Linked DNA regions of Homo sapiens. The protein of the gene in region 2 purifies or fractionates together with the protein of the main gene of each other region. This does not show direct contact. Each region holds a gene or a part of one and is shown on either strand. Other genes may lie near its edges. The genes, in order: TRA2A, RPL26L1, LARP7 and CTCF.

Region 1 (7,033 bases), on a different chromosome or scaffold from region 2:
GGTTTAGTTTTTGCTAACTAGCAGTCTAGGTTTCAACCAGGCAGCCGGGCTCTAAAGTTCTTAGAACATGTTTGCATGCTGTACTATGCTTCTCCCACAGGATACTAACTTAAACTGTGGTGGAGCATGTCATTATTTAATGTTTTGAAATCTGTAAATTTATTTCTAAAATCTGGATTGTGGGAACACTGAAAGAATATCCTCGCTAAAGAATGAAAATGGGCCAGGCATATTGGCTCACGCTTGTAATCCCGACTACTTGGGAGGCTGAGATGGGAGGATTCCCTGAGCCCAAGGAGGCCAAGGCTGCAGTGAGCCATGATCAGGCCAGTAAACTCCAGCTTGGGCAAGAGAGTGAGGCCCTGTCTCAGAAAAAAAAAAGAAAGAAAATGGAGGAGAGGAGGTCTAAATCAACAATTACAGATGAAGTCAGATTAAGTACAAATCTGTAAGGGATGTAAAGCATTTGAATTAACTAGAAAGATGGTATTAAACTGAGGATACTTTTTTTTTATAAGTGAGACGGAGTTTCACTCTTATAAAAAGTAAAGGTTGTTCAAAGAGATTTTCCTCCCCATCTAATTAGAAATAGATAATAATTTCTCTTAGAAGCAAAATTTATTCAAAGAGCTGTGCTAACATTCTTAAATATCTGCTAGGCCGGGTGGGGTGGATCACCTGAGGTTGGGAGTTGGAGACCAGGCTGACCAACATGGAGAAACCCCATCTCTACTTAAAAATACAAAATTAGCTGGGGGTGGTGGTGCATGCCTGTAATCCCGTCTACTTGGGAGGCTGAAGCAGGAGAATGGCTGGACCTCGGGAGGTGGAGGTTGCGGTGAGCCAAGATCGCACCATTGCCCTCCAGCCTGGGCAACAAGAGTGAAACTCCGTCTCAAAAAAAAAAAAAAAAATCTACTAGCCGTAGTAAAAAAATCAATGTACTTTATGTTCTTAGCTCCCACAATTTAGCCTAAGTATTTGCCCTAACATGCTTATACTGGTCCAAACAAGCATTAGGTCATAGCCTGTTCCTCTTCCTTATTTAAAGGTGTTTTTACCTTTCTCAACATTCCACAAATTACTTCCTCCTTCCTTTGTTCTCCTCCGCCTTTGCCTCTTTTAAAAAGTTTGAAGTTACTAGCCAATCAAGACAAATCAGAATGTGAAGTCCCATTCCAGCCAATAAAAAACAGACACAACAGTAAGGTAGACACGTCAGATTATAAATGACCCTGTCTCCTTTGTTCAGTGTACTCTTGTGACAAAACTGCTGACAAGCGTACCCTTTCTACAGAAAATAAAAATGGCCTTACTAAAAAAATGTATGTTCAAGTGCTATTTCTTTACAACACCGAGAAACAAACATTTCTAACACTCTTGTCGCCTAGGCTGGAGTGCAATGGCTCGATCTTGGCTCACTGCAACCTCCACCTTCTGGATTCAAGCGATTCTCCTGCCTCAGCCTCTGGAGTAGCTGGGATTACAGGCGCCGGCCACCATGCCCAGCTAATTTTTGTATTTTTAGTAGAGATGGGGTTTCACCATGTTGGCCAGGCTGGTCTCGAACTCCTAACCTCAGGTGATCCACCCACCTCAGCCTCCCAAAATGCTGGGATTACAAGATTTTCAGGATACATTATGAACATTGCTGGGCTGGAGAGTAAGAACATTTTAATTCAGGCTATAGACAGAAAGCATATCCCAAAGAAGGCCTTGGGTGTACTGTGAATTGTAAAATATGGCTCATCTGCTCTAGTTCTCTTAAAATCTTATCTCCAAATTATTAGAAACAATATATTTATTGTGTATTAGATGAGGTGTTCTAAACAAAGTATTTCTGTGTTTCTTTGATTTTGATTTTAATTTGGAGTTTTAAATAATATTTCCATTCAATAGGCAAATCCAGATCCCAACACTTGCCTTGGAGTGTTTGGCCTCAGTTTGTACACAACAGAGAGGGATCTTCGTGAAGTATTTTCTCGATATGGACCATTGAGTGGTGTCAATGTGGTTTATGATCAGCGAACTGGGCGATCTCGAGGATTTGCTTTTGTGTATTTTGAGAGAATAGATGACTCAAAGGAGGTAAATTTGTCTTTTATATGCCTGATTATAGTACTGAATTAGTGTGAAAAGTTGATTAATAGACTTATTTCTGTAAACATTGCATCCTTTTTTCTTCCTTTTTTTCTTTTTTTTTTTTTTAAAGATAGGATCTTGCGTCCAGGCGCGGTGGCTCATGTCTGTAATCCCAGCACTTTGGGAGGCCGAGGCAGGTGGATCACGAGGTCAGGAGATCGAGACTATCCTGGCTAACACGGTGAAACCCCGTCTCTACTAAAAATACAAACAATTAGCCAGGCGTGGTGGCCGGCGCTTGTAGTCCCAGCTACTCGGGAGTCTGAGGCAGGAGAATGGCGCGAACCCGGGAGGCAGAGCTTACAGTGAGCCGAGATTGCGCCACTGTACTCCAGCCTGGGCGACACAGTGAGACTCCGTCTCAAAAAAAAAAGATAGGATCTTGCTGATTTTGCTCTGTTGCCCAGGCTGGAGTGCAGCCTCGACCTCCTGGGCTCAAGCAGTCCTCCTACCTCAGCCTCCTGAGTAGCAGACACTACAAGTGTGGGCCACCATGCCCAGATAATTTTTTGTTGTAGAGATGAGGTCTCACTATGTTGCCCAGGCTGATCTCGAACTCCTGGCCTCAAGTGATCCTCCCAGAATGCTGGGTTTACAGGCATGAGCCATCATACATGGCCTGTTGTGTCCTTTCTAATTTTGACCTGATTCAAACTCTGCCTCTCAGTGTTAACAATTGGAGTGACTACAGTTTCACTTTTTTTGGTTATGCTCTCTGCTATAGGCATATCCTAATTGAAATCTGGCTGTGTAAAGTGAGCTATATGTGTTTAAATTAATGGAAAAAGTATATGTGTAAGTGTTCTCTTTTGAATAAGCCATAATGATGCTCCAAACAGATGATTACATTAACTTTTAAAAAATAATTCTGATGTGTGGGTTTGATATGTTTAATTTTGTGTCTATAATGAGGAAGGAACTTGTTTTTCTATTCTCTAAATGTTCATTTATCAGTGTGTTCAATAATTGAAAAATAGTACATGGAAAGAATTGATAATTTTTTAGTGCTATTCTTAACTTGCCTAACACAATGAACTAATCAATGTCAATGACTTGAAATAGTGCTATTCTAACATGTTCGGTATTATAAAGGAAGTGGTAGGCTTGCTTTAAGTTTTTGCAGGGAGTCTTGCTGTGTTGCTTAGGCTGGTCTCGGAACAACTCCTGGCCTCAACTGTTCCTCCTGCCTTGGCTTCCCAAGGTGCTAGAATTACTGATGTGAACCACCATACCTGGCCTAGGCTCGCTTACTCTTTACTAAAAGTTGATAGTAATTGATTTAGAAAATTGCATTTTAAAGAATTTGAAGCTCAATACTTTTAGTTTTGTTAGACCTTCTGTCTTTTAAATTAATATATATATATTTGTATATATCTGGAAGTTTTATTAGACCTTAATAATCAGGGTGTTTTTCTTTTCTTTTCTTTTCTTTTTTTTTTTTTTTTTTTTTTTTTTTTTTTTTTTTTTTTGAGATGGAGTCTCGCTCTGTCGCCCAGGCTGGAGTGCAGTGGCGCGATCTCAGCTCACTGCAAGCTCTACCTCCCGGGTTCATGCCATTCTCCTGCCTCAGCCTCCCGAGTAGCTGGGACTACAGACGCCCGCCACCATGTCCAGCTAATTTTTTGTATTTTTAGTAGAGGCAGGGTTTCACTGTGTTAGCCAGGATGATCTCAATCTCCTGACCTCGTGATCCACCCGCCTCAGCCTCCCAAGGTGTTGGAATTACAGGTGTGAGCCACCGCGCCTGGCCAAATAAGGCTATCTTTTAAAAACAGTAAGTTCTTGGCATCTGGTGGGTAGAAGCCAGGAACACTGCTAAATAACCATACAGTACACAAGCTGGCACCCCATAACATAGAATCAGTCTCAAAATGTCAATAGTGCTAAGGTTGAGAAACCCCGGATAACTCTAACAAACTAGTACTTTAGTTTTTAAGTCATTTATGTCACAGGCAGTTTAATGCCTTAATTTGTCAGTCTTATGATTTTTTTTTTTACTGTTACGTATTTGTGATTTATATATTCCTTTTCTCAATTAAGAGATACATGTTATCAATTTAGAAATACTAGGATATCTGAGCTGAAGTAAAAGTTGCAAAATGCAAGCCAGAACAGTGTAATTTTTTTATTATTAATATTTTTTAATGTGAAACGTGTTTATCTCTTGATTCCACCTGTCCCCTTCCACTTCTGGATAAAACTAAAATGGCAGGCCGGGCACAGTGGCTCGCACCTTGTAATCCCAGCACTTCGGGAGGCTGAGGCGGGCAGATCACCTGAGGTCAGGAGTTCAAGACCAGCCTGGCCAACAGGGTGAAACCCCATCTGCTAAAATACAAAAATTAGCCGGGCATTGTGGCAAGCGCCTGTAACCCCAAGCTACTCGGGAGGCTGAGGCAGGAGAATTGCTTGAACCTAGGAGGCGGAGGTTGCAGTGAGCTAAGTTTGTGCCACTTCACTCCAGCCTGGGCAACAGAGTGAGACTCCACTTCATCTCAAAAAGAAAAGAAAAAAAAGCTTAACTGGCAACTTTAAAGACAGGAGCAGTTACTTAGTGGCAGGATTAGAAGTTCCTTTTAGTTCACTAGGTGACAATATGTTACTTAAGGAGCGGGGTGACGAGGCTTGTCAGCTAAATCACAGTTTCTCTTTTCAGTTGCCCAGGCTGAATTCTCAGCTAACACAGGCATGTTGTATGGTTTCTTCTGTATGGCTGAGACTGTCTCCAGTCTTTAGGGACAGGCAATCTGAAGTGATTTGATTTTTTTCTTTTTTTGTTGTTTGTTTGTTGTTTCTTTGTTTGTTTGGAGATGAGGTCTTGCTCTTTGCCCTGTCGCCTAGGCTGGAGTGTGGTGGCACGATCTCAGCTCACTGCAACTTCCGCCTCCCAGGCTCAAGTGATCTTCCCACCTTAGCCTCCCGAGTAGCTGGGACAACAGGTGCGCACCACCATGCCCGGCTAATTTTTGTATTTTTTGGTAGAGACGGGGTTTTGCCCCATTGCCCAGGCTAGCCTCAAACTCTGGACCTCAAGTGATTTGGCCTCCCCAAAGTGCCAGGATTACAGGCATGAGCCACTTCACTTGGCTAAAGTGATTTTTTTTTTTTGAGACGGAGTCTTGCTCTGTTGCCAGGCTGGAGGGCAGTGGCACAATCTCGGCTCACTGCAACCTCTGCCTCCCGGGTTCAAGCAATTCTGCCTCTGCCTCCCGAGTAGCTAGGACTATAGGTGCATGCCACCACACCCAGCTAATTTTTGTATTTTTAGTAGAGATGGGGTTTCACCATGTTGGCCAGGATGGTCTTGATCTCTTGATACCTCATGATCCCCCCATCTTGGCCTCCCAAAGTGCTGGGAGTACAGGTGTGAGCCATCGCGCCCAGCCTAAAGTGATTTTTAAAATCTTTTTAAAATTTGTATTCCTTTTTGACTAACTTCTCCCTGATTCTGAAAATTTCACTGAAGTTTCAAAGTTATTAGTGTGCATATGGTGAAGATAATAATATAAGCTCCTCACCCTGTTTTAGTAAGAAGTACTTAGAGATTTTGTGTGTGTTTTTTTGGGGGGTGCTTAGGATGGGGTGCAGGGAGATCAACTTAGAGAATTTTGATTTTTGGAACTTCAAATGGAAGATGTGTTAAATTTGTTGCAGCTTTGCTTTTGCAGACATTTATGTGATGTAAAGTTCTTTTTAAAAATTGGACCGGGTGTGGTGGCTCATGCCTCTAATCCCAGCACTTTGGCAAGAGGATTTACTTGAGCCCAGGAGTTTGAGACCAGCCTGGGGAAACATAGGGAGACTTGGTCTCTACAAATATATATATGTGTGTGAGAGAATAGGAAAAAAAAATTGTCCCAGAAACAAATAATACTCTCAGAGTTCTTTTCAAAGAGACCAAAGAGACAACTCTTATCTTCAAGAATTAGGCTGTGCAAGGCGGCTCATGCTATTTGGGAGGCTGAGGTGGGAAGGCCACTTGAGGCCACGAGTTAAGAGACCAGCCTGGGCAACAGATCTTGTCTCTACAAAAATAAATGCATGCAGGCCAGGCGTGGTGGCTTACGCCTGTAATCCCAGCACTTTGGGAGGCCAAGGCAGGAGGATCACAAGGTCAAGAGATCGAGACCATCCTGGCCAACATGGTGAAACCCCATCTCTACTAAAAATACAAAAAATTAGCTGGGCATGGTGGCGCATGCCTGTAGTCCCAGCTACTTGGGAGGCTGAGGCAGGAGAATCACTTGAACCTGGGAGGCAGAGGCTGCAGTGAACCGAGGTCACGCCATTGCACTCCAGCCTGTGCAACAAGAGCGAAACTTGGTCTCATAAATAAATAATAAAATGCATTCCATTGAATGGAATACTGTTTAGACCCCTTCTCTACCAAGAATTTTTGTTTTAATTAGCCGAGCATGGTGGCACAAACCTGTGGTCCTAGCTACTTAGGAGACTAAGGCTGGAGGATTGCATAAGCCAAGAAGTTTGAGGCCACAGTGAACTATGATCCACTGCCAGCCTGGGCAATGGAGTGAGACCTCCTTTTTTTTTTTTTTTTTTTTTTAATGACCTTTAGTTTATGGGACACTCTTACGGAGAAATATTTGTGGATACATAAAAATTGTGTAGTTTTTATTAGTTTATTATACTTTTATTAGTTCAGTCTCAATAAAAGGTTGAAAGGCATTACGATAAATTTGTTCTTGTCTGTTTATATCATTTCTTCTTGGCTGCTCACTGAGTCTTAATCAGTGTACTAGACTGCAAACTAAAGAATAAGATTGGGGGCAGGTTATAAAAAGAACATGTATAAAGCTTAGCAAACCCTTTTTAATGTTCTGAAGTCAGTCTTTGTAAGTGAAATCGCTGGAGACTAGAAAGTATGAAATGG
Region 2 (7,974 bases):
GCAACCTCCGCCTCCCGGGTTCAAGCGATTGTCATGCTTCAGCCTCCCGAGTAGCTGGGATTACAGGTGTGCACCACCACGCCTGGCTAATTTTTTGTATTTTTAGTAGAGATGGAGTTTCACCATGTTTCCCAGGCTGGTCTCAAACTCCTGAGCTCAGGGGATCCACCCGCCTGGGCCTCCCAAACTGCTAGGATTACAGGCGTGAGCCATCATGCCCAGCCTGCCAAAGGTTTTAAATAGGACCTGATTTGCAAATAATACCACTCTGTGGAAAATGGACAAAGGTAAAAGAGGGAACTGCAATGCTGCCTTGAACTGGACAGGAAATAGGTTCAAGACTTACTTTGGAGGTAGAATCAACAAGCCTTGATGGTAGATTACAAGAGGGGGTTAAGGAGCGTTGTTAAAGATAACAAAGGTTTAGGGGCATATGCAGCTGGGGAGATATAAATGGCACTTACTGGAGATGTGGAAGATGGGAGTAGAGTTGGATTCTGGAGGCAGTGAGAGTGTTAGGATCAAGAGTACTCTTAAGAAGCTTGAAATGTCAATGGGCTACCTAAATAGAGATGTTCAGTAGGTAGTCAGATCTATAGGTCTGTGTTATAGGTAGTCAGATATACAGGTTGTCTAAAGTGGTCTGGACTGGGATATAAAAGAGGGAGTTGTTAGCACACAGCAGACATTTAAAGCTCTAAGAACGGATTATTACCTATTCTTTACCTACGTAGAGAACACAGAGCAGAAAGAGATGCTAGATGTGTCCACTGGATTCAGTCACGAAGGGATTATTAGTGATCTACGTCAAAGTAGGTTCTATAATGTAGTGGGGACAGGGAATAGACTGAAGAGAATCCAAGAGTGAATGGGAGATGAGGAAGTGTAGACAGCTCTCTTGAGGAGGTTGGTTATGAATAGAGAACAAAGTGTAGTAGCTGGAAGGAAATGTGGGCTAGGGAAGTGAATCCAAATTTTCCAGCTCTCTTTGAAAATCCAAGAATCTAACAATGGGCCTGCATTTCCCCCAGGCATCAATGGGCTAAAGGTAGATGATTATATCTTATATGTGAGGCTTGAGCTTTCCAGTTTGCCATTTTCTATCCCTACCTATCCCCTATAAGTATTTGCAATTCCCCCATTCTAGAACATGTCTGATGGGAAGGATCCAGGAGAGAGGGGGTTGAAACTGCTGATCATACCTCTGAACTACTCTTTCCACTCTTCCTGTCACACTTCCGGCTTAACTCCACATTTTTTCCTCCTTAACATATCCCCAAACCTTCAAAGAGTCCCAGTGTCTCAGATGATACACCAAGCCTCATCACCTTATGTCATTTCATTCTCTAAGACAATAGCTCTTAACTGAGTGAGGGAAGAGTTGATTTTGCCCCCCAGGGAGCATTTGGCAATATCTGGAAATATTTTTGCTTGTCACAACTGTGAAGGGAGGGAGTGCCACTGGCATCTAGTGGGGAGAGGCCAGGGACGCTGCTAAACATTCTACAATGCACAGGACAGCCCCCACCCCCCACCCCCCACAACAATTATCCAGTCCAACATATCAATAGAGCTGAGGCTAGGAAACCCTGCTCTAAAACGTGATCTCCATGAGAACAAGGGCCTCGTCAATCTTGTCCTAGAACAATCTCTGGTAAGTGCTCCATAAATATTCCTTTGAGGAATGAATCTAGCCCCTGCTTATTTCACTCATATCCAACTCCCTTCCCTCCTCTCATGCATTCTAAGCTCCAATCACAGAGAACAGAGGGCTTGTACGTTCTCACATGGGCCAGTCTTTTAGAAATTATGAAAGAGTGACTCGCTGCATCTTTACCAGTTCTCCTGCCAAATCCAATGCTATCACATGGCCAGCTCCCACAAATCTCTGTCCATCAATCCCACTACACCCAAATACACTAAAACACTACTCTCACTGCAGCACCTTCCCCTACAGTCTGGTTCAACAAGCCACCCTGGGCAACAACACTTGGCAAACTAGCAGCCAGAAGGTTAAATCAAAAGTATTTTTGGTGGGGCACGGTGGCTCACACTTGTAATCCCAGTGCTTTGGGAGGCTGAGGTGGGAGGATCACTTGAGGCCAGGAGTTCAGAGACCAGCCTGGGCAACATAGCAAGACCCTATCTCTACAAAACAAACAAAAAAGCAGGTTTTTGCTTGGTTGACATACTGTTTTATTAAATTTTACTATTACTATTAAATAATTAAATGCTCTAAAGCAACGCAGGCACTCTCTGGTGGCTCTGAACCCTATCTCTGGCCTAACACATCTGAAGGGTCACACTACTTTCCAGAGTCCTGAGGCATGTGAGTCTGTGACTGCTCCACGCATGACGTTCTTAGGCAACGGTGTCCGAGCGCCACTAGCGCCGGAGGGAGACGTACCTGGACCTCGTCGTCCTTGCGGATGGGCATGGAGCGGACATTGTACTTCTGCCGCAGCTCCTTGGAGAGCGGGGATGACATGATCTTCCTGCGCACGTGTGAGGGGGCATTGAAGTGACGTTTGCGGTTTTTACTGCGGTCCGAGGTAACGAAGGGATTGAACTTCATGGTGACCCTCTACAAAGGGCGGAGAGAGACGGAATGAAGGGGCGCTCAGTGGGTTACAGGGGCCTGTTCTCGACCCAAGACACTCCTCATCCCCCAACAAAGGCTCTACAGGGGAGGTAGCCTCTGAAAAGGCAACTGAGGGAGGACAGAGAGATGCGACTAGTCTGACTATCACATAAAGTGAGGCGTGTGTGGAGGTCGCATGCCCGTCTAAAGGGGTCGTGGGGGAGAGGGTAGCACTGGGACCTTGAGGCTGAGGAAGGAATGCTAGGGTTAGGCAGGAATGGGTGGTCGGGAGGTCACTCAAAGAGAGCTGTGGGGTGACATGTGTTCCCGCGACACATAGGGCAGGGTCTCACGGGGCGGTAGAGTTCACTGTCCGAGAAAACTCCAGCCTCCACTCACCCGGCTACTAGCTGCCTCAGACCCTGAGTGCGCAGGGCCGGAAGTGAGTTTCCGTGCCGCGCAAGCGCAGAAAGACATCGAAGCCCCATTTCCGTAGGAGCGAAGTCGAATGGCGCCCCCAGCGGCTTGGGGTGGGATCTCAGTGCCTCATTCCTGGCGGCCCCGGGAGGGCGATGCCAGTGAGTACAAGGGCCTGCTTGTGTAGGGCCTGCGGTAGAGGCTTACTGGTGTTCTTTTTTTTTTTTTTGAGACGGAGTCTCGCTCTGTCGCCCAGACTGGAGTGCAGTGGCGCGAGCTCGGCTCACTGCAAGCTCCGCCTCCCGGGTTCACGCCATTCTCCTGCCTCAGCCTCCCGAGTAGCTGGGACTACAGGCGCCCCCCACCACGCCCGGCTAATTTTTTGTATTTTTAGTAGAGACGGGGTTTCACCCTGTTAGCCAGGATGGTCTCGATTTCCTGACCTCGTGATCCGCCCGCCTCGGCCTTCCAAAGTGCTGGGATTACAGGCGTGAGCCGCCGCGCCCTCCTACCTCTACTTTTTTCTATCTCTGGGACTAAACGGCGGCCGGCGGCGTGCCTGCGGGTTTGTGGCCGCCGCCCCGCCCCTCTCTCCTAGACCCCGCCCCTCTCATCCAGTCCCCGCCCACTCCGGCCGCTCCGCGCCCACCTGTGGCCCTCTTGGCCCTTCTGCCCGTGCCTGGCCCCGCCGGGTCGCTCCCGAGCTCCGCGTTTCGTTCGCCGACCCCTGGAAGACTGCCTGGAGGCCCGGGCGCCACCCAACCACTGGCTAGGCCGACACTTTGCGCGGACCCTGGGTGTAAAAGGTCCCCGGGTCTCTGGTCCCGACGGAGCTGTGAGGGAGATCAACCACGCCCCCTCCGTGGGCACCGTGGCGGCAGGGAAGGAAAAGGGCTCTGGGTCTCGACTCTCTTCGGGTTAAGAACCGACGGGGTTTATTCTATGCAAGGTGTTATTAACTCCAACTCTCCCTTTCGTTCATTCATTCCATATATGTTGAACGACAACTTAGTGCCAAATGCCGGCATGCTGAAACTCAGAGAGGGAAGATGTCTTGCAAGTACAGCAGCCACACCCAGGCAGGTCCCGTGCTCTCTCTTAGTTTATCAGTGTTCCCTGACATGTAGTGGTGACATTGTTAAACACCTGCGTTTACTAATACTAGATTTTTTTTTTTTTTTTTTTTGAGATAGAGTTTCGCTCTTGTTCCCTGGGCTGCAGTGCAGTGGCACCATCTCGGCTCACCGCAACCTCCGCCTCCCAAGTTCAAGCGATTCTCCTGCCTCAGCCTCCCCAGTATCTGGGATTACAGGTATGCGCCACCACGCCCGGCTAATTTTGTATTTTTAGTAGAGACGGGGTTTCTCCATGTTGGTCAGGCTGGTCTTGAACTCCCGACCTCAGGTGATTCTCCCGCCTCGGCCTCCCAAAGTACTGGGATTACAGGCGTGAGCCACTGCGCCTGGCCTACTAATACTAGGTTTTATTCCGGGCCCTTCACAGTTAATGTTGGAGGCCTCTGGAGGATGGCCACACCTGGGCTATTTGCAGAAGCCTGGACAGCACAGCAGGCAGAGTTAAAGCAGTTAAGGCAGTATCAGCTGAAGGGCCACCCAGCTGTGCGTGTGCCCAGGCTCCAAGAATAAGGAGGTTGGGGGGCAGTCCTAAGAAAGGAAGTCATTACCTATCGGCAACCCAGGAGCAGACGCTGGCATAACGGCGCACACACAGTAAAGGTCAGAGGTTCTTCTTAGAATAGTCCTTAGGTGTTAGTCAAACCCATGCCCTGCCCCAAGGAGTTCATTCATTCATTCACTCATTCATTCACTCACTCACTCACTGGTTCTGTTTATTCACTCATTTCTCTATCACATATCCATTTATTGTCATTCACCCACTTATTTACTCATACATTCATTCATTTGCTCATCAATTTATTTGGTACCTACATGGAGCCAGGTACAGGTCTTGATTAAAGAGATCTGGGGAGGAGTGCTCCCAAGAAGTTCAGAGCCTCACTGGTGAAGGAAAGCCATGTAAAGACAGATCTTGAGAACCCAAGATCATCAAGGAGTATCCATGATCAAGCAGAGCAGGGAAGGCTTTTTGCTTTGTTTTGTTTTGTTTTTAACATGCTGTGTGGTTCAGTAAAATTAAAACAGGCACAATGATATCCTGGATGACAAGAGCTGGAGGCTGTCATTCTAACAATGTAGTGAGACTGGCTGTCTTGTCTCATGCCCACCCCTGGAAACATGCGCAGGAACTCAAAGCACCTAGCACAGAGGAAGTGTCTGGTGAGTCTTTTTATTTCTCGAGGCAGTGGCTGCATGGGGAAGTGCTTGAGCCCTGGCACCCAAATCGCTTGGGTTTGGATCTCTGCCACTGCCTGGTTCTTTGGCTTTGGAGAAGATATTCAGCCTCTTGGTCACTCAGTTTATTCCCATCTGAAAAATGGGAATAATGATAGTACTTACCTCATTGGTTTGGTGTCAGGATTTTTTTTTTTTTTCGAGATAGAGTCTCGCTCTGTCGCCCAGGCTGGAGTGCAGTGGTGCAGTTTTGGCTCACTGCAACCTCCACCTCCCGGGTTCAAGTGATTCTCCTGCCTCAGCCTCCTGAGTAGCTGGGACTACAGGCGTATGCCACCACGCCTGGCTAATTTTTGTATTTTTAGTAGAGACAGGGTTTCACCATGTTGGTTAGGCTGGTCTTGAACTCATGACCTCAAGCAATCCACCTGCCTCAGCCTCCCAAAGTGCTGGGATTACAGATGTGAGCCACCACACCCGGCCTGGTGTCAGGATTAAATGAACCCTTAGCACAATACCTGGCACAGAGGAAGAACTTAATAAATGTTGGAATTTATTTATTTATTAGATGGATAATAATGGCTCTTCTTAATGGGCTGAGCATTTACTGTCAGGCATTGTGCTAACAGGTTTACAAGCATTACCTCATTTCAGTCCGTTAAATAACAGTATGAATTGTCCCTTTTACAGGTGAGAAAACTGAGGCTCTGAGTGAGATGGGAACAAAGGATGGACATAATCTACCATTAGATGCTCAATATGGTTATTATTTATCTTGCAGCCCATAAAGATAATAATGCGATCCGTATTTATTAATCTAGGAAGATGTCTGTTAAGTGAGGGCTAAGCTATACAATAATATGAACAGTATGATCCCATTTTGCTTATCAAAAGGCATCACTAAAATGTTATCATTAAATGATCATCTCTGATTAGTGGGATTACGGGTGACTTTCGTTTTTCCCCTTTTACTTTTTTTAGTATTTGATAATTTTCCTCCAGTGGGCTTATGAGCCTGTGTTATTTGTGTAATTAAAATTACATTTTGAAGATTTAAAAAATTGTAAGAACGCTGTCCCTGCGAATGTTTAATTTAGATTTTCTCTGCAGGTTGTTTTAAAGGAAAAACAAAACCAAAAAAAGCACCTCCTGCTCTGACCACCCCTATTTCCAGTTTTCCCTTTTGGCACAGCAAAGATGACCTTGGGACTGAGGTGGAACCATGTAATTCTTCGTAATCCCAGAGTCAGGCAGACCTGGGTATGAATTCCATCTTTACTAACTGTGTGACTCACTGTGTGGCCATGCCAAGTTACGAGGTCTCTCTGTTTCCTCCTTCCTAAAAAGGAGATAACATCCATCTCGAAGGAAGATCTGGCCTGAAGAGCAGTCACTCTTGCCTGGCATGCAGAGAATGCCAAATCATATTAATGACTGGCCAGAATGAAGTGCGTGACCTCATCACTCCATAACTGACAGGAAACAACTGCTAGGGCAAGAAAAAAGGGTCTCCAGTGAGTATTCTTGTCCACACACATCCCCACTCACGTTCCTGGACCACTGCATCTAACTGCCGCAGCAGCTAATGAACCTTCTGGAATAAAGGACCAGTTTCTTAAGAAGGGATTGAGACCTCCAGTGGCCTCCCACATTGTTTCCGGCAAGAATTTAAAAATTATTTGTAACATATAGTAATAAAAACTAACCACAGGCTGGGCGCAGTGGCTCACGCCTGTAATCCCAGCACTTTGGGAGGCTGAGGCAGGTGGATCACCTGAGGTCAGGAGTTCGAGACCAGCCTGACCAATATGGTGAAACCCTGTTTCTCCTAAAAATACAAAAATTAGCTGGGCATGGTGGTGGGCGCCTGTAATCTCAGCTACTCAGGAGGCTGAAACAGGAGAACTGCTTGAATCTGGGAGGTAGATGTTGCAGTGAGCCGATATCGCGCCATTGCACTCCAGCCTGGGCAATGACTCCGTCTCAAAAAAAAAAAAAAAAAAAAAAAACTAACCACAGCTACTATTTATGAACTCTAGTGCCACACCCCATTTCTTCCCAGGTTTCACCCCCTCTTCCCAGGTTTCACCCACCCCAACCAGTGTTGTTTGCAACACTTCAGCTTCTCTCCTCACGAAGCACGTCTCCAGAGACGCCTCTTCCGCAACTTCCCAGGGAAGCCATTTCTGCCTGGACCCACCACAGCTCCCAACCTGTCACGCACCCCTGGAGGGTTTTGCTCTGTAATCCTGATTTAGAAATCCTCTTATATGAAACCACTGTAATCCACATCTGGTTAGACAATTGGAAAAGTTCATTGAAAGGAGAAATAATAAAAATGGCATCCATCCCTTAAATGTTGTATGCCAACGTAAAACACATTCGACAATGACCCTGGGCTAAGGCTCTACCTTACAGAGAAACCTGTATCGGTGTTCCCCTCCATTTTCCTTACATAAACCAACCAAAAATCTTCAGTTGTTCCGTTCTCTGTCTCTCTCCCTCTCCACACCCACCTTCCCTCTTCCTCTCTCCCTCCCTCCCTCTCTCTTTCTCTCTTTTTTGAGACAGAGTTTCACTCTGTCACCCAGGCTGGAGTGCAGCGGCTAGATCTTGGTTCACTGCAGCCTCCACCACTCCCCCCACTTCCCCCCCGCCGCCCCT
Region 3 (6,991 bases), on a different chromosome or scaffold from region 2:
ACCAGCCTGGCCAACAAAGTGAAACCCAGTCTCTACTAAAAATAACAAAATTATCTGGGTGTGGTGGCCCATGCCTGTAATGCCAGCTACTCGGGAGGCTGAGGCAGGAGAATCGCTTGAACCCAGGAGGCAGAGGTTGCAGTGATTCGAGATCGTACCACTGCACTCCAGTCTGGGAGACAGATTCAGTCTCCATCTCAAAAACGAACAAACACAAACGTAGGCTATAATTATCAATTATTCTATAATTGATAATTATAATTCTATAATTGATAATCTATAATTATAAATTATTGATAATTATCCAATTATCAATAATTCTATCCAATTATTCTATCCAATCTCTTGTTAAATCCTATCAGTTTGACTTTTGAAATGGCTCTCATCTCCATCCAGTGTTTTCTACAACTACTGCTACAACTGTCACTAGAATATGCCAATAGTTTATAAACTGTTCTGTAAGTCACCCATTCTCAACAGGAGCCTATGTATAACCCATCTAAAACACAGACCTGGTTTTGTGATGCTTCTGTCAAAACTTGCAACATTAGAAATTCCTTAGCACCTTCCCGTAACATAATATGCAGTTTATGAAAACACTGTTTTAAAAAAAAAAAGTAACACTTGGCCAGGCGCGGTGGCTCACGCTTGTAATCCCAGCACTTTGGGAGGCCAAGGCGGGCGGATCACGAGGTCAGGAGATGGAGACCATCCTGGCTAACAAGGTGAGACCACGTCTCTACTAAAAATACAAAAAAAGAAAAAAGAAAAGAAAAAAATTAGCCGGGCATGGTGGCAGGCGCCTGTAGTCTCAGCTACTTGGGAGGCTGAGGCAGGAGAAAGGTGTGAATCCGGGAGGCGGAGCTTGCAGCGAGCCGAGATCGTGCCACTGCACTCCAACCTGGGCGGCAGGGCAAGACTCCGTCTCAAAAAAAAAAAAAAAAAAAGTAACATTTAACTGGCTTTAAATGAAGAATAAAAGTTATTGGGTAACAATACCAGTAACTTTATATACACTTTTGTAAATCCTCACAATCCCACTAGGTAGCAGTTTCTTCCATCTTAACACAAAAACTCAAAAAGGTTTAAGTGACTTGGCCAAAGCTAGCTAAGTAAGTTGTCCCAGGTATGTTTGATCCCACATTGTCTACCTTTTGGTAGAATTTCCCGCAATTTATCACCACGGACTCTATGTTCTGACTCAGGAATTCTTAATCTGAAGTCCATGCAACTTTGGCTGGACAAGAATTCTAGTGGGCTCCATTAAATTGTAAATGATACATTTTAAAGATAAGGTAAAATCAAGACTCTTGTACAAATATAAAATGAATACACGGTAAAGATTTAAGCACAGTCATGGGTTGCTTAACGACAAGGACACATTCTGAGAAATGCACAGTCAGGTGAGTAAGTACATCATTGAGTATGTAGTTATTCTATGATGTATTCACACAAACCTAGGTACTATTGCCTATTACTCACCTATAATCTTATGGGACCACTGTCATACATGCGGTCTGTCGGTATGTGGTGCTTGACTGTAAATAAGGGAACCAGTTAAGTGCTAAAAACCAGTTCAAAGGAGAATTTAAAAAGCAGGTACACAGGCAATCAGGAACGTTGAAATGAATATTAATAAATACTGCTCAGGACAATAATTAATTGCATCTTTACTGGACAAACCTAATTTCCATGTTGCTGTAGCGAGTTACAGGGTTGAAAAATAGTTCAAAGACCACGAAAGACATAGATAACTTGGAAGAGTGAGTCAGACAAGACACCAAGTCATTTGTGTGTGTTTGCTATTTAAAAGTATTTCGTAATTTCTCCTGAGGAAATTATATGAAAAATGTTTGTTTGGAGACGCAGCCTCTCTCAGTGGCCCAGGCTGCAGTGCAGTGGCGCGATCCCGGCTCACTGTAATCTCTGCTTCCCGAGTTCAAGCGATTCTCCCAACCAAGCCTCTTGAGTAGCTGGGACTACAGGTGTGCACCACCACTCCCCGCTAATTTTTGTGTTTTTAGTAGAGACGAGATTTTGCCATATTGGCCAGGCTGGTCTCGAACTCCTGACCTCAAGTGATCCTCCCGCGTCGGCCTCCCAAAGTGCTGGGATTACAGGCGTGAGCCACCGTGCCCAGCCTCGCAAAATGTTTTAATAGGTACATGCACGTTTTCCTGAGAAGCTAATCCATATAATTAAGTTTTCAAAAGAAGTGTGCCACAACAGGTTAAGAATCATTGTTCTGGTCACTGCTTACAACTCAAGTCCCTCAACACGTAGTGGCCTGTGTGTTCTGCTTTGTCTGAATCTTCTCGTCTAAATTTCCTTATTAAATTTTCAAGGCCCAGGTTAAATGGCATCTTACTCTTTGAGATCTTCCACCACCCTGTGTCCTATCATTTGTTTTCTCTTAAGTTTCTTTGCAAACGCACTCTGCACACCATATCTAGCAAGTGTTAGTTCCCTTCCGTAACTGGATTTTTTACTCTTTGAGGACGATGGCAGAGTCCTGCAAAAGAAGATGATAATTTTAGAATATAAATCCTCACGTTCGCTATCTTCTGGCAGCCACAGCTCAGCTCCAATCTGCGAAATACGGCACTCTCTTTATTGACTACTGCTTCTCTCGGCACCCGTACTTCCGCAAGGACGCCGTCATAGGCCGGGCGCGCCCCAAACCTCCCCACGCCGGGCCCCTATGCGCCCTTACTGTCTGAAAACGGGAACTACAAGTGCTGCCGAAGACTTTTGCGCGTGCGCATAGATAACTAGGCCAAGGAACTGATGGGTGTGCAGGACGGGGGGGCGGGGTAAGAAGGACGATAGATGATAGAGTGGACCGCAAGAAAAAGGACGGAGAGTTAATTAGACTTCGCCCAAGCTGTGCGACCCTATAGGCCGCTTGTAACTTACTCCGTTCGACTCCCAAAATACAGGGTCAAGTACTGCGGCCTTCGGACATTTCCGTCTCCGGATCCTGATAGTCTCGGTTACTTTCGCGTCATAGGATGAGCGACAACGTTTTCCGGTCCCAATTGAGAAAGACGGGCCCGGAGGCAGTGCGCGCTCCACCTACGTCACAGGCGAGGTGGTTCCAGGAGGGCTGGGCATCGGAGAGCGCGGCCGGCTGAGAGACTCGAAGCCAAGGAAGAATTTGATTGGCGATTTGAAAGCGGCGGTTTTTGGCTTAGGCGGAGGTGGGCGGGCCAAGTTTTGGGTCCTCATCTGGTGAGGTCCCGCGTTAATGACGTCACGTTGTTTCGCGGGAGAAATTCGAAAGTGGATTTTGTGCAATTTGACAGGTGAGGTGAAGTGTTTCTCGGGATTTCCTAGGAATGACTTGAGCGATTTGGGGCGAAGGGACGAAAGACTCTGCTCCTTAAGAAGAGAACCGGGAAGGATGCTGTTTGGAACCAGGATTGGGGTGGTCGCAGTCACAGCTACTCGGACTGCTTGTAGTAAGTGGTGCCTCTTCACCGTTTTTCCCAGGCCTTGCTTTGCAATTTCGAGTAGGTATGAGGACCAAAGAGGGCTTTGCTGTTTGTATTTAGGACTGAGAAAGGATCAAGTCTCCATTGTCATTTGGTGACAGGATTATGGTTCTTAGAATCTTGGCAAATGAGATGTGGGTTTCCTTTGTTTATTTGGACTGGATGGTTTGTTAACAATGTTGAGTTCATGATTCCAAAACTTTGTTATCCGAACTATTTAGAGGTTCAGGTTTAGGTTCAAAAAATACTCCTTGTTTAAAAAAAAAGGAAAAATATCTAGTATTTAAATGAATAATGGCTCATACTTTACTGAGAACACCGAGTTTTATGTATATATATTGCGTCCGTACATATAGTAGCACAATGTATATGTATGTATATGTGTGTATGTACGTATATCTGTGTGTATGTATGTATGTATATAATTATCACAGAGCATCTGGGGTCTTTAAAAACTTATTTGGAGATTAATCTTTCACCTATTAGAAGTCGGTCAACAGGTGAATTGTCTGGTAGACGTGGACAGATGAACACTTGGAAAAAACTCTTTGCATCTCACTTAAATATATATGATGCTGTTGTCTAAAATAATTTTTTCTGATTAATACTAAGATAAGAAAGGGTGTTGACTTTCAATGAATAAGTATTAGAGCTCTTCTAAATTTTAAAAGATCCAGTTAGCTTTTTTTTTTTAGGTTTTCTCCTATAATCGAATTTAACCATCCTTTAAGAGTTTCAGTCTTCTTAGTTCTTTTTAAACTGTACATTCCAGAAGTAATATCTCAATTTAGGAAAATAATGGAGAATTTATCTTGCAATTGTGAAATAGCATATAAGTTATCCTAAACTAGTAAATACTGGGTTCCTAATCTGTAAATTGTAATAATGCTTATTCTTCAGGATTATGAGACTGATAAATACTGTATGTAAAGTATCTCGTCCAATTCCTGCCTGATACATAGTATGTAATCAATAAATATATATAATTACACACGATAATCATATAATTGTATATTACATAATACAGTAATATAGTTATATATTATATAATTACATAATAATTATAATGTATATAATTAACAATATAATGTATATAATGTTTATAATATAGCACTTTGGGAGGCTGGAAGGATTGCTTGAGCCCAGGAGTTTGAGGCCACAGCGAGCTATGATTGCAACACTGCACTCCAGCCTAGGTGACAGAGTGAGACCCTGTCTCTGTAAAAGAAAAAGAAAAGTTAAAAAGCCAACAGAAACAAAACCTCCAAATAAAGCATTTAACAGTTTCTAGCATATGGTAGCACTGAATAAATGGTAGCTATTAAACAGATCTGATATTAATAATTGCCACATGCCCAGCACTGTGTCTGTACCATGTATTCTCATCTATGTATACAGCATATCTAGCCCAGGAGTGTTTTTCTCGATCTCTCTTTTATCTTCTTGGCATTCTTAGGCATCAGCAATTTATGTACGCCGGAGGGGAGGGAGATAGGATGTGGAAGTTGTATTTCTTTTTTTTTTTTTTTTTTGAGATGGAGTCTCGCTCTGTCGCCCAGGCTGGAGTGCAGTGGCGTGATCTCTGCTCACTGCAACCTCCGCCTCCCGGGTTCAAGCAATTCTCCTGCCTCAGCCTCCTGAGTAGCTGGGACTACAGGCCTGTGCCACCATGCCCAGCTAATTTTTGTATTTTTAGTAGAGACGGGGTTTCACCATGTTGGTCAGGCTGGTCTCGAGCGCCTGACCTCATGATCCACCCGCCATGGCCTCCCAGAGTGCTGGGATTACAGGCGTGAGTCACCACACCCGGCCAGGAGTTATATTTCTGAAAGGCAGTCCTTCTGTAGGTTTGGTTTCTGTCCTGTGACCTGTGTCACGAAGCAAGTATGCATATCTCATTTGCATACCCCTTACCTATTCTTTCTCCAGATCACCTTGATTAGTCAAGGGAAGATGCCAGTCACTTTCTTGCACTTCACCGCCCCCGCCTCGCCCTTTTATTTTTTTTTTTTGAGACAGTTTTGCTCTTGTCGCCCAGGCTGGAGTGCAGTGGCGTGATCTCGGCTCACTGCAGCCTCTGCCTCCTGGGTTCAAGTGATTCTCCTGCCTCAGCCTCCCAAGTAGCTGGGATTATAGGCACGCACCACCACACCTGGCTAATTTTTGTATTTTTAGTAGAGACAGGGGTTTCACCATGTTGGCCAGGCTGGTCTCGAACTCCTGACCTCAGGTGATCCACCTGTCTCGGCCTCCCAAAGTGCTGGGATCACAGGCCTGCAATTCTTGTTTGGGAAGACCTTCACTGGCCTTCCCTTGACTAAGGGTTATTTCAGCTTACAGCTTAGACTTTACTTCCTTGAAGAAGCCTTGTTTGATGATCCACACCAAGCTGGGTGCCCCTGCTGTGCTTATTCCTGCCTTATTTTATTAAAATTACTGTTTATCACCCCGCCATACTGAAATTCCTTCAGATGGAGGATAGAGTTTCCATTTAAATACTTTAGCATAATATCTGGCACAATAGTAAGTACTGAATAAATATATGTAACTTATAAATAATATGTAAGTGGCATATTTTATATGTCTAAAAGAGGAACTGAAATCACAATTACAGCTTTATTGAATCCTTCTAGGTCTTTTAGATCTGTATTCTCAAACTTGAGTGTCCATCAGCATCACTTGGAGGGCTTCTTAAAACACAGACTGCTGGGCCCCCAACCCCAGACTTTCTGACTTAATAGGTCATTTCTTACTAGTTCCCAGATGATACTGTTGGTCCAGGGGTCACATCTTGAGAACCACCTTAGGGGAAAAAAAAGAAAGTATGTTTCTTTGGCATTTCTGTTTACTTCTTCAGGGATCACCATCAGTGATTTTAGATTTCCAAATTTGCCCACAAAAACAGTTTTATCCAATAGCATAACAACTACAGTAACTGTTGCAACAGTGTTGGAAAGATTTTTCCTTGTAGAGGTACTATGTAATTGGTCCTAGATACTGTGGTATATTGATGCTAAGAAGTGAAAGGAAAAATTTAAAACACAAGGGGGCCATCTTGTGGTAACCGTAGCAATTCAGAAAACTTTAAAAATTGAATTTGCGCTATAGGGAACCAAACATGTGGAGGACAAATTCGTGTTTTCTGATACATATTATGCATCTGGAAAAATGCAGACTACAAGTTAATTTATGTATTTTACTTAGTTTTTTCTTTACTTATGAAAAAATGCTTGTTTCACAGCATGGTATCACTTTTACTGTGTCCTCAGTGATAGATAATTACACCTCTGTTTCCCTTGGTAGTTAGGTAATCTTGGAACTCCTTGATTCATGTCTGTGGTTGGGAGTTTATTGAGAAAAATTATATTTGATATTTTTTAAAAATCAGGGTTGAAATTTTATGTCATTTTTAATTTTAGGTGGTATAAATAGTTGAATATTTCCTATTTTCTGGACCCAGCTGGTTTATAACTTCAGAAGAAATAATGGAAAGCCAA
Region 4 (4,185 bases), on a different chromosome or scaffold from region 2:
TTTGTTTTTCTCTGGAGACAGAGTTTCACTCTTGTGGCCCAGGCTGGAGTGCAGTGGCGGATCTCAGCTCACCGCAACCTCCGCCTCCCAGGTTCAAGTGATTCTTCTGCCTCAGCCTCCCGAGTAGCTGGGATTACAGGTATGCGCCACCACGCCCAGCTAATTTTATATTTTTAGTAGAGTCAGGGTTTCTCCATGTTGGACAGGCTGGTCTCAAACTCCCAACCTCAGGTGATACACCCACCTCAGCCTCCCAAAGTACTGGGATTACAGGTGTGAGCCACCACGCCCAGCTGCCAGTTTCTTATTTCTTGTAGAGATAAGGTCTCACTATGTTACCCAAGCTGGTCTTGAACTCCTGAACATGAGTGATCCTCCAACCTCAGCCTCCCAACGTGCTGGGATTACAAGTGTGAACCACCGTGCCCAGCCTTAAATTGATTTTTCTTAATAATTGGCTGAGCATGCTGGCTCACACCTGTAATCCCAGCACTTTGGGAGGCCGAAGCAGGCAGATTGCCTGAGGTCAGGAGTTTGAGACCAGCCTGGCCAACATGGCGAAACCCCATCTCTACAAAAAATACAAAGATTATCTGGATTGGCTGGGCACGTTGGCTCATGCCTGTAATCCCAGCACATTGGGAGGCCGAGGCAGGTGGATCACCTGAGGTCAGGAATTCAAGACCAGCCTGACCAATATGGTGAAACCCCATCTCTACTAAAAATACAAAAATCAGCCAGGTGTGGTGGCGTATGCCTGTAGTCACAGCTACTCAGGAGGCTGAGACAGGAGAATTAAACCCAGGTTGCAGAGGTTGCAGTGAGCTGAGATCGTGCCGCTGCATTCCAGCCTGGGCGACAGAGTGAGACTCTGTCTCAAAAAAAAAAAAAGAAGGAAAAAAAAATTACCTGGGCATGGTGGTGCGTGCCTGTAGTCCCGGCCACTCAGGAGGCTGAGCCACGAGAATTGCTTGAATCTGGGAGGCAGAGATTGCAGTGAGCCGAGATCGCGCCACTGCACTCCAGCCTGGGCAATAGAGTGAGACTGTCTCAAAAAAAAAAAAAGAAAGAAAGTGTATATATATATATATATATATTTATAAAACAAGACTTCAAATAATATATAATTGTTTTCTTTCATCTTCCACCACCCTTCTCCTTGCCCCACCACCTGTGCTTCCTGATTTCATGAAAAGAAAATGCTGAACCAGATCTGGACGACAATGAGGATGAGGAGGAGCCTGCCGTAGAAATTGAACCTGAGCCAGAGCCTCAGCCTGTGACCCCAGCCCCACCACCCGCCAAGAAGCGGAGAGGACGACCCCCTGGCAGAACCAACCAGCCCAAACAGAACCAGCGTAAGTTGTTCATCTCTGCTCTGGAGGCTGGCGTCTTCTCCGAGCATGTGGGGGAGCCAGATGGGTCCTTGTTCTTTGGGGATGTGGGAACTAAGCCATGAGAACAAGTTAAGGGCATGTCGAGAACAAACTCTCAGGAAATGGCTTTTTAGGAGTTTTTACTGAGGAACATCTGAGGAAGTCTTTAGAGGCCTGTTACATTTCAAGAAGAAGTCCAGAGTAGAAGGGTACTTGTGTTCTGCAAGATGGGTACTGTTAATGTGGGCGGGTTTTGAAAAACAACCAAAGTCACAGTCAGCTGGCAGAATGGATGCGGTAATGAATATAAAAGAGCCAAATCGTAAAGGTTGGAGAGGGAAAGCAGTTTCTGCACTGAGATTGCCCCTTCTAAGAAACTCAGGGTCAGGCGGTGGCTCATGCCTGTGATCCCAGCACTTTGGGGGGCCAAGGCGGGAGGATCACCTGAGGTCAGTAGTTCCATACCAGCCTGGTCAACATGGTGAAACCCCATCTCTGCTAAAAATACAAAAATTAGCCAGGCGTAGGGGTGGGCACCTGTAGTCCCATCTACTCAGGAGGCTGAGGCAGGAGAATTGCTTTAACCCGGGGGGCAGAGGTTGCAGTGAGCTGAGATCATGCCCGTGCACTCCAGCCTGGTCATAGAGCAAGACTCCGTCTCAAAAAATAAAATAAAAAATAAATTGACTGTCTCTGGACCGCTATCTAATAAGGCTGTCCTGCATTGCTGACATCCCGTTCGCTGTCAGTCTAAAAGACCCTTGTGATTCTTGGGGCTTTAATGGACCATTTGTTCTGTCTGTGCTCTTCTTTGCCAGCAACAGCTATCATTCAGGTTGAAGACCAGAATACAGGTGCAATTGAGAACATTATAGTTGAAGTAAAAAAAGAGCCAGATGCTGAGCCCGCAGAGGGAGAGGAAGAGGAGGCCCAGCCAGCTGCCACAGATGCCCCCAACGGAGACCTCACGCCCGAGATGATCCTCAGCATGATGGACCGGTGATGGCGGAGCCTTGTGCGTCGCCAGGACTTCTCTGGGCTGTGTTTAAACGGCCCGCATCTTAATTTTTCTCCCTTCTTTCTTTTTTTGGCTTTGGGAAAAGCATCATTTTACCAAACATACCGAGAACGAAAACTTCAAGGATGATGTTAGAAAAAAATGTGATTTAACTAGAACTTGCTGTCTGATGTTAGCAAATCATGGAATGTTCTGAGTCCCTGAGGGTTTACTGTGAAGTGCTGAGGACAGTGTTGACAACTAACTCGTTTTCCTAGATGGAAACGGAGACATTGACCCCTCCCTCCATGTGGTAAACCACTCCAGAATGGCCACCAGGCTTCCCAGAGTTCTATGGTCTTCTTCCCAAGAGAGTTTTTAATTGTAAATGCATACTTGGGAAGGACTTAGAGTTTTAAACTGTTTTTTGCTTTTGCTTTTCCCTGACTCCCTTTGCTTGGAGTCAGCTGCACACCAGTAGTATGGCATGCTACGATCAGGTTCTGTCCTGAAAGCTTTGCCTCTTTCTTGGCAAAGTTTCTGGTATGGTCAAGCTTGTAAATAACTTTTTTTACATTTTAATCTTTTCCATTAATTAAGAGGTTGAAAAGAAGTGCAGTGTAAGAAAACCCAGCATTTTAATTACTTGCAAATTAAGTTACCACAGACTCTGTAGTGTGTAAATGTTGACAAGGAATTGGATCACAATCATGTAGCAGAATGGCACCCAGACCACTGCCCACCAGTGACGGACATGCACGTGGCAGATCATGATTTCCAGCCCACGGAGCCAGCATTTGAACCTTGTATAATTAACTTTCAGTTATGATTTCCCATCGACATTTTCTTTGCCCTGTTTGTAGCTGATTGTTGTGTTTTATAAATCTTCTGTTAAGGCAGAAGGGTGATTATGAGTGGTTCACAGCAGCCCTTATAAGCTGGGCCAGAAAATTTCACTAGGTCAGTAATTTAAACCTTGGATCTTCAAAAAATAAAATAATGTGAAGCAAAACCAACTAAAAAGTGATTCTTGCACATGAACTGTCACATGTTTAAAAATGTGTTTTTTAGAGAGCCTCAGTCTTACTGATTTCAAACACTTTTTTCTTCTGTGTATTGCTTTTAAGAGAGCCATCAGTTAGCTATCAGACTCTAGGTTGATGCATTTTGTACTTAGCTGTACTGTGTGATATTTTTCATTATTTTAGGACGCCAACATGAGACCTGTAATAAAATATGTAATGGGGTTGAAAGCTGGGGAGGAGGATCTACTGCTGTACAGCTAATAAATCATAACGGATTAACAAGTGCTCCAAAGACTCCATCTTGCGTGATTCCTGCCTGCTTGAGGGAGGCTGGGGGGCTGCATACATGGTTCCAGGCTGTGCAGGCTGCTGCCTTTCACAGGCAACCTCTGTTCCCTGGGATGGTACTTTCTCTAGCAGATGGGACGATATGATCTTGGCGGGTGACTGGATATTGAGCGCATCCTGCTGTAACTGTTTTTTTGTTTTGTTTTGTTTTGTTTTGTTTTGTTTGAGATGGAGTCTCGCTCTGTTGCCCAGGCTGGAGTGCAGTGGCGCAATCTCAGCTCACTGCAACCTCCACCTCCCAGGTTCACGCCATTCTCCTGCCTCAACCTCCCGAGTAGCTGGGACTACAGGCGCCTGCCACCATGCCTGGCCAATTTTTTGTATTTTTAGTAGAGACTGGGTTTCACTGTGTTAGCCAGGATGGTCTCGATCTCCTGACCTTGTAATCCGCCTGCCTAGGCCTCCCAAAGTGCTGGGATTACAGGCGTGAGCCACCACA

Evidence for each region.
Region 1: the proteins of RPL26L1 (region 2) and TRA2A purify together in Homo sapiens (affinity purification with mass spectrometry; 3 studies listed by BioGRID and IntAct, with this or other methods). This does not show direct contact.
Region 3: the proteins of RPL26L1 (region 2) and LARP7 purify together in Homo sapiens (affinity purification with mass spectrometry; 3 studies listed by BioGRID). This does not show direct contact.
Region 4: the proteins of RPL26L1 (region 2) and CTCF purify together in Homo sapiens (affinity purification with mass spectrometry; 3 studies listed by BioGRID and IntAct, with this or other methods). This does not show direct contact.

Annotation. Positions count from the first base shown.
Region 1 is NC_000007.14:23,507,949-23,514,981, reverse strand, and holds part of TRA2A (transformer-2 protein homolog alpha), read left to right. Parts: intron 1-1,899; coding exon 1,900-2,088; intron 2,089-7,033. UniProt on the Homo sapiens protein: Sequence-specific RNA-binding protein which participates in the control of pre-mRNA splicing.
Region 2 is NC_000005.10:172,954,475-172,962,448, reverse strand, and holds the start of RPL26L1 (ribosomal protein uL24-like), read right to left. Parts: upstream 3,026-7,974; 5' UTR 2,981-3,025; exon of another isoform or gene 2,822-2,980; intron 2,585-2,821; 5' UTR 2,576-2,584; coding exon 2,408-2,575; intron 1-2,407.
Region 3 is NC_000004.12:112,633,165-112,640,155, reverse strand, and holds the start of LARP7 (la-related protein 7), read right to left. Parts: upstream 3,014-6,991; 5' UTR 2,917-3,013; intron 2,655-2,916; exon of another isoform or gene 2,553-2,654; intron 2,513-2,552; exon of another isoform or gene 2,369-2,512; intron 1,539-2,368; exon of another isoform or gene 1,483-1,538; intron 1-1,482. Other genes in the region: 5'-3' DNA helicase ZGRF1, read left to right, coding at 6,980-6,991. UniProt on the Homo sapiens protein: RNA-binding protein that specifically binds distinct small nuclear RNA (snRNAs) and regulates their processing and function.
Region 4 is NC_000016.10:67,635,494-67,639,678, forward strand, and holds the end of CTCF (transcriptional repressor CTCF), read left to right. Parts: intron 1-1,196; coding exon 1,197-1,358; intron 1,359-2,194; coding exon 2,195-2,379; 3' UTR 2,380-3,684; downstream 3,685-4,185.